3 separate regions of the Homo sapiens genome follow, and regions 2 and 3 are each linked to region 1. The links come from fine-mapping of genetic effects on gene expression. A gene starts in region 1. Each other region holds a variant in brackets. All regions are shown on one strand. Distances are from middle to middle.

The links. PIP is the estimated chance that this variant, and not a neighbour inherited with it, causes the effect.
Region 2: its variant is the best candidate, but not a certain one, in a credible set for the expression of RORA in whole blood (TOPMed, PIP 0.74).
Region 3: its variant is the best candidate, but not a certain one, in a credible set for the expression of RORA in whole blood (INTERVAL, PIP 0.82).

The regions. Positions count from the first base shown.
Region 1 is chr15:61,227,788-61,230,466 of GRCh38, forward strand. It overlaps RORA (RAR related orphan receptor A), which reads right to left and starts at 1,515. Exons shown (of 11, transcript NM_134261.3): 1 at 1,266-1,515. The coding sequence starts at 1,431.
Region 2 is chr15:60,696,764-60,699,442 of GRCh38, forward strand. The region is part of intron 1 of RORA (RAR related orphan receptor A); the gene reads right to left. Among named protein-coding and RNA genes, the nearest start is that of RORA-AS2, 17 kb to the left of the region's middle. The variant C/T (reference allele first, on the strand shown) is at 1,423.
Region 3 is chr15:60,820,411-60,823,089 of GRCh38, forward strand. The region is part of intron 1 of RORA (RAR related orphan receptor A); the gene reads right to left. Among named protein-coding and RNA genes, the nearest start is that of RORA-AS4, 58 kb to the left of the region's middle. The variant T/C (reference allele first, on the strand shown) is at 1,495.

The DNA.
Region 1 (2,679 bases):
CCAGGCGGCTCGCGCGAGCACGCTTCCTCCGGAGTGACAGGCGCGATTTATACATTATTTACAACAGTAATTAAAGCTGTAGCTTCCTCCTGTTCTTTGCAAACTCCAGGCGCATTCAAATAAATAATCCCCCACTCTCGAGAAAAACACACATCAGGTTCCAATACCTTCAAGAAAGAGTGAGCTTTCCTCAACAGCTCACTTTAGGAAAGGAGGGAGCAACTGAGTCCCCCCCATCCCCCCCAACACACGCAGACACAGACCAAACACCAAAATGAAGAGTAAAAATCGCCAGGGGAGGAGAAAACATTGCTTGCACTATCCAACCAGCATACAACTTGCACTGACCATCCCCAGGTTCCTGCAGAAATGCTTGGAACCTCCGAGAGGGAAGGATTCCCAGAGCAGAAATAAGTTTCGGTGCTTGCTTTTGTAGACGCTCCCTCCGGATGCGCGTGGAGCGCCCCACAGGACCGCCGCCCTCTGCGCGTTGGCGCGCACACGCCCCCCGCCAGCCTGGGCGCCGGGCTCCGAACCCCCGGTCTGCAAACTTGCGCATCTCCCCTCGCCGCGCCCGCCAGACAACTTGGCGAACAGCTCGCCCGCCCGCACCCCGCTTCCTTCGGCCCTTCCTTCAAATCCCAAACGCACCGCCGTGCTCCAAAGAAGGTGTCCACGTCGCCCCCAGACCCCGGAGCGCCCCCTCTCCACCCCCGGGACTTCCCAGGTCGCTCACTCCTCCCGCCCCCCGCCCAGATCTGAGAGGGACCGAAAACACACCCCCGACTCGGGCAGCCAGGGCCGAAACTGTCAAGAGGAGAAAAGGTAAAGCGGAAGGAGGGTGGCCATAAACAGATTTTTTTGCCCCTTCTTAAAAGGACACTGCCGCTTTAAAAGTTTCTTTCCCGGGCCCCCACTCCCCGCATCTCCGTATTTTGGGGGAGCGTATTTAATTGAGGCAACGCAGCTTTCCTCCAGTGTTTGCAGAAAAATCAAAGCCAGGGGGGTGAGCCCGCCGGCTGTCAACCTTCCCGCCGCCTCCCCCGCCCCACTCTGCTCCCGCAAGCCGAGAACGGGCTGCAAAAGTTTGCAACATTTCTGGGGGGCGGAGGGGGGAGGGGAGGGGGGTCCTCCGGGCTCGGGGCGCCGCCGCAGGCTCGCGCGCGGCCGCCGGACCCCGCGCCCCGGGCGCCCGCTCCCGGCCGCCCCCCGCTCCGCGCCCGGGCTCCCGCCGCCCCCTCCCCAGCCCCTCTCCAGCCTCCTACCTCTGCTGGTGCTGGAATAGCTCTGTCTGCGCACCGGGGCAGGCGGCTCGCTCTTGCGGGCGGATTCCTGGTTCAGCGGGGTCTCCCTGGAGCCGGCGGCCGCGTCCGCGCCGCTGCTGCCTGGCTCGCTGGCGGCGGGGTCGGGGGCTGCCGGAGCTGACTCCATGTTTTTTCCCAATGTAGAGATCGCTGGAGATGGCGAGCTCCGAGACTCCCTCTATCTTCTGTTTTCAGAGCAACTCTATGGTACCAAAAAAAAAAAAAAAAAAAAAAAAAAAAAAAAAAAAAAAAAAAGAAGGAGAAGGCGACCGGCGAAAGCAGGAGGGAAAAAGCAGGCGGCGGCGGGCGGGCAAGCAAAAGCGCGAGGGAGCGCGCGGAGTGTCTGGGTGGACGTGTGTGTGCGCCCGAAAGGGGACAAGAGGCGGGTCTGGCCACAGGCAGCGCTAGCGAGAGCTTCTCCAGCCGGCCCCCACACCCACATTCCCCACCCTCCAGACCCCAGACCGAGAGCCACAGACTGGCTGCCAATTTTGGGAGGTGGGGAAAAGAGGGGAGGAGGAGAACAGAGCCTCCCGCGCCCCAATCCTCCCCTCTCCCCAGCCCAGGGACAGAAATTAAAATCGGTGAGATGATTCCGTGCCTACTTCTGAGACTCTCTCGGGAACAGAACTCGTCCCCATCCGCTGCCAGCTTGGGTAGAGACAAATCCGATTGTCCACGTCCACGTTGGGAAATCGCAGGTAGCCCCCTGCCAGCCCTGCCGAGGGCTGAGGAGAAACTAAAAAGGAATTAGAACGGGGCTGACATCCCAAGGAAGGCGGAGGATGGGAGGACGTGGCACTTTTTACTTTGGGATGGGACGGCCAGTGGGTTTCCAATCTTGGTTAAAGACATCTGTGTCTAAAACAGATTTTGTGAATCTAGAAGCGCCATGGACAGTTTCTGGCATGGTTGAAAGAGGTCGCTTTCAGCTCCTTTGCTGTTTGTCCGCGAAGGATCCAGAAACCATTTGGCAGGGCATTTTCTACTGAAGAAAACTTTGGCCTGTTTGGTCGACAACTATCTAAGCTGGATAAAACATGCCACGCTGCATCTAGCTCAAGCGTGGCTGCTAATTGTCAATTCCCACTGGTACTTTTCCTATTAAATGTACAGTCTCATCCATAAAAGGTAGATATACTGGAGAGGCATTACTAATGCCCGGATAACATTCAGATAATTAACAGCTCCTAATAATTCGTATTATTATAGGCATCATTCTACACCCTCCTCCCATTGAAATACATTCATCCCCTAGTAGGTACCTAAAACTCCAGGAAAGCAGATAATTGCATCATCGTTACCTTGACTGCAAACTCCAAGATGAAGGAACAATACAAATTGAAAGAATGGAAAATACTCCAATGGTAGTAGC
Region 2 (2,679 bases), 530 kb before region 1:
TTATTAATGCATTAAACCAGTGTTCTGAAATGACTAAATGCATTATTTCTGCTGTAGAAGAAAACGCTGAGGTGAGGCCAGAGCAAAGGTAAAAGACCTGGTTTTCCTAAAATGGATATAGCCTTAGAGGCATTTATATTCTCGGAGGACACAGTCCTGATTCTTCTGATCATTTTTCAAATCGACTTAATGAGTGTGAGATGGCCTGCTCATTAAACTGATATAATAGGTAAATATCACCTGCATTTAGGGTGGGCAACAGAAAGAGGGCAACTGTTTTCTGGGATTGTAAAGGATTTGCAAATGGAGCAAAAATGCGGGCCTGGTTTCTGAACGAGGTTTATGTTCTGCTCTCACTTTTGACTGGCTGCCACAATACACAGGGCGAGAGATTTTTAAGCTTTCATGAACTAAAAGCAACGCCAATTGCTATGGATTGCTTTTTATAGAATTTCAAGTAATTTCACATTACAAATGTTACCTCTGCTTATGACTTCCTTAAAAGATAACCAAATGCCAAGCCCATTGGAATAAACATCTAGAGCAAAGAGCTACATGTACCCCAACAAACTGTTTTTTCAAAAGCCACAAGCCTAGGTTAGATGCTTTGTCTACCACACTGCCGCTCAAGTGAAGCCTCCCTTCTTCCATCTTCCAAGTACAGCCAAAACCCTAAACACAACCTTTTTAAGGATCCTTTACAAAGTGGATGTTAAAAGTGAACAAAACCTCATTGAACCATCTATTCTTCTTGCTTTAACCTGCAGAGTCATCTACATTTGCTATTTCCTTCAAGTCTACTTTTTTTTTTTTTTCCAAACACTGGAAACTTCAGAGCCACTCACACATTGCAGTAATTCTGCCTGCTTGCTCTACATAAAATAAGGCCTGCTCTTGGGTTCACACAATCAGGCCGGTTACTCAGTAGAATCCGTGGTCTAGGGTAACTCTGAAGAGACGTAAATTTCTAATTTTTATACTTTCCTCAAATTTCATATGTTATTTTTGTTATTTCAAAATCCAGTGCTTTATAATAAATTTATAGGGTGCCTAAGGGGGTCTCCATTCATATTACATGGTATCTCATTCACGGCTCCTCTGGGAGAGAAACACAGAGTTATACCTCTCAGTCAGCCAACAACACTTCCGCTTGTGAAGTTCCTATATAATAATGAGAAACGAGGCTCCTGTGGGTATCCCACACATGTGTGTAAAATAAACGCCTACAAAGTGAAAATGATGCCATGCTACACTTAAAGCAGGATCATGTGGGTAAGCTGGAAAAAACACTTCCGTGTCTGTAGTCGTGAAGTGATTCTGTATTTTATTGTAGACATTGTATCAAGTCTCAGTTTCAAGTGATTTTTATATATACTCCATGCTTCAGCTGAGATGTCTTCTGTTCCTCCTTCTTTCCAGGAG[C/T]GTCAGTAGCTATAGTCAAGTTTCAAGAATGGGGAATGCTGTGGGAGTGTGCAGGCAATGGCCTAAAAACAATAAAAAAGCCCCACTAAAAGCTGGCTTGCTTTTGATTATTACTCTGTCCTGACAATTCTTAGTAATGTCAGTGATAAAATAAATTACTGGGCCGACCACTCCCTAGCCTGCCCCTCGTTGACATGGCACTGTGAAAGCACTCCAATATCTTTCTTAAGAAGGATACATTATGATTTAAATACTGAAAATACTATATATTCACTGTAGGACATGTAGAAAAAAATTTTAAATGTTTTAATGGAGAATTAAAATTTACATTAACTCTACCACTTATTGATAATCATAGCCCTTTATGTCATAATTACTTTTTTGGTTATTAAAAGTAATTCTACTATAAATATCCTTGTTACATAGATTTCTTTTGGCATTTGTGTTTTTTTTTTTTTTTTTGGAAGTACATTCTTGAAAGTTTAACTTTTAAAAAGCATTGAATAGATATCATCGTGTCCTGTAAAAAGTGTTTACCAATTTATAATTCCTAGATTAGTGTACACCTGTCCCAATGCAGAACTTTATCATGAAAAATAAATCCTGATAATTTAACTGGCTAAAAAGGTGTCCCTTTAAAATTGACATTTCTTTGTTCATTTATGATGTTGTTTTGTCTGCATTTTTAAAAAATTTTGTTTTTGTTGTCTAAGTTTCTTGACTTTTGTATTTCCTCTTTTGTTAATCGCCTGTTCATAATCTTTGCTCACTTTTGTATTGTGGTATTAGTCCTTTACTACTTACTAATTTATAAGACTTCTGTATAGTTAATCATATGTTGCTTGTCTCCCCAGTTTTTCTTTTAAATTTTGTTTAGTTTGTTTCTTGTATATGTAAACTAGCTCTACCACTTATTGATAATCATAGCCCTTTATGTAATTTCTACCTTTTTGGTTATTAAAAATAATTCTACTATAAATATCCTCTTTAAAATATCCAATCTAGTAATCTTTTATTTATGGTTTCTGCCTTTCCTTGCATGCCTATAAGGACTTTATTTATTGCAAAAATATATTCACCTATACTTAAAATATTTTTATGATTTTACTTTTTATGTTTAATTTAAAAATTCAAATAAAATTATCTAAATATACTTTTTTCTTGCTCTAGTTTAGCTTGCACAGAAATTGTTTCACTCCACTTCTCAAGATTTGAATCTAAACAACACACCAACTATCTTATGTCTTTCTTTGTTCT
Region 3 (2,679 bases), 410 kb before region 1:
GGGTGTTGGAGGTCTTGAAGAAACGGACAGACCCTTGATTAAACCTTCTATATTTTTATGTAAAACATAGGAAAAGGGCTGGTGAAAATGAGGCCTGCATTGCGTGAAGAAGGTTTAAGATTTGAGGGAAAAAAGGCGCATTCTCTTTTCTGTAAAATTTTTAAACATTTTAAAGCTAAATGCTACCCTCTTGGCCTATAGCTTTCACACTGGGAGTAAAGGCAGAGGGGTGGGGGTGGAGGTGGCAGGTGAATGGGTCCTTCAGGAAACTTTGAGGAAAACAACACAGGTTTCCCCTAAACCGTAAAAACGGCAGATCTGGAGGTCCCAACTTCTAATTTTCAATCCGTCGGCTTAGTCTTGGTTTTTCATTACTGAGGTTCCCTTGACTATATAGTATCTCACAATGTCTCTCAAAGTGCAGTCACAGACTACAGATGAGAGAACTATGAGTGAAGCTGCTTAAAATGCAGATTCCAAAGTCCTTCCCTGAAGGATTCTGGTTGTGGTACAGGGATCTGTAAATGGGGTGGTTGATCTCTAACCCCCACCCCCCACCCCAGCTCTGCAATTCTATGCTTCTAGACTCTCTGGAAGGGAACACCACCAGGAACTGTGGCTGTCCCACTGCCAGAGGATACCTCACCTATGCCAGGTGTCACCAATTACCTATTTCCAGCTGTAGGGCCTAGGACCTTGGCCAACATTGGCTCCTTCCACCAGGTAACAGGGCCAGTTAGGCTGTACAAGGGATCCATCTTCCACTGGAGATGCCTCCAGTGCCTCCAGGTTCACTGATCATTGGCTGCAGTGTGTGCTCTACTTAGCCAACTCCCCCTTGCCATAGCCTCTTTCCGTCTCCCTGCTGTGTGCTGTTCCCTTTCAGTGCTGACTCTTGTCCCCTTGGCTGTTTGGATCCGGGGCTTCTAGCCCCTACGCTCTGCACTGGGTCCGCTCCATCTGCTGCCCGTGTCCTGGCGCCTGTGGTCCCCTTAAGTCCTCCAGAAGGTAGGGCTCGCATTAAGAGCCTGCTCCTTCTTCCTTTCACCACCCAAAGTGGCTCAAAGGCTTCCACGTGACTAGTAACTCACCACTTTTATCCCCTATCTCTCCTCTGTATTCCTCAAAGGCTGGGAACACACTTTTGTCATTTCACATCATATTCTAGTGATTTGTATCTCTTTCTCCTCCCTGCCTAGGTTGTAAGCTCTATGATGCCAAGGACTGTGTCTTACTCATCTTTGCATCCGTAGCAACTAGTGTGGGGCCTGATGGTACTGATAAAAACATTTACTGAGTGCTTACTATGTGGCAGGCATTGCACTAGGTGCAAGATACTCCTTTGTGCAATACTTGCTATGCTACTCTATCCTCACAATCACTCTACAAGAGCCCCAGTTTTATTAATCCCATGTGAATAAGTGAGAGCAATGAGGCCAAAGGGTTTAGGTAATTCGATCAAAGTCACACAGCTAGCATGTGGTCAGCTGAGGA[T/C]TGGAATCCAGGCAGTCTGACTCCTGAGCCTCATACTAAAAACTCAAAGTTTGCTGAATAAATAAAGGAAATCTGAATAAAGCAATGAGTAGCAGTATTCACAGAAGCACGGAATTTTAGAACTAAAAAAAATATATACACTGTGTAGTCCAAACCCTGATTGTATTGCTAGAGAAACTGAGGGTGAGAGCAATGAAACAAGGTTTGGTGGTAAATGGTAAAACTCTTATTTTATCAAAGGGAAAATTGGGGTTCAATTTCACTCTTACTTCCACAACTGAAATTGCCAGAATTTGATCGTTTAAAAGAAGCATAGTTATCTCCTAGTTCAAGAGCCTCATTTTGCAAAGGAAGAAGTTGTAGCCCAAGGAGTGCTATGACTTGCCAAGGTCTCTACTTCACCAGAGCAGAACTGGAAATGAACCTGGCTCTCCTAACTCCAGCTACACTAACACAGACCCATGAGCCAGCCCATTCCCCACCACTCTCCCATCCCAGCTTCCCAGGTCAGGTACAGACAGTCCAACCGTCCATGATTTAACCTCAGTGGAAACGCTCCACACTGGAGCTCAAATGCAAGGCAAGCAGGTCCATCCAGATCCAGTTCTTTCATATGACAGGTGGGTAGAGTTACAGGCTCACATTGCAACTGGGGATTTGTGAGATCCACCTCAGAAGAAGGCAATGCTCCCCACAACGAGGCTGACTGTTGAGTGTGTGAATCAGCATCTGGGTGGTGAAGCACCCCAGGATGTATACACTAGCCAGTGCTCAGCAATCAGCACCACGCTTTCTGGCACCACCTAGCATGCGCATTAGCTGCCTTTAAAAATGCTGATGCCCAGGGTCAGGCCCGGACAAATGCTAACAGAATCTCTGGGAGTGGGGCCAGGCATCAGTATTTCGTTTAAAGGCACCACCCCCTGGCTCCAGGTGATTCTAATATATGCTAAGCTAATTCATAAGGCAAGTGAAATGTCTTCCATCCAAATTAGCAGTGTCACCTGGAAACGTGTTAGAATCCAAATTCTACATTAGGTACCCTTCATTATTTTCTTTCTTTCTTTCCCATCTTTCCTTCCTTTCTTCTTTTCTTCCATCCTTTCTTCCCTCCCCTTTCCTTCCTTCCTTCCCTCTCTTTCTCTCTCCCTCCCCTCCCCTCCCTCCCTTCCTTCCTTCCTTCTT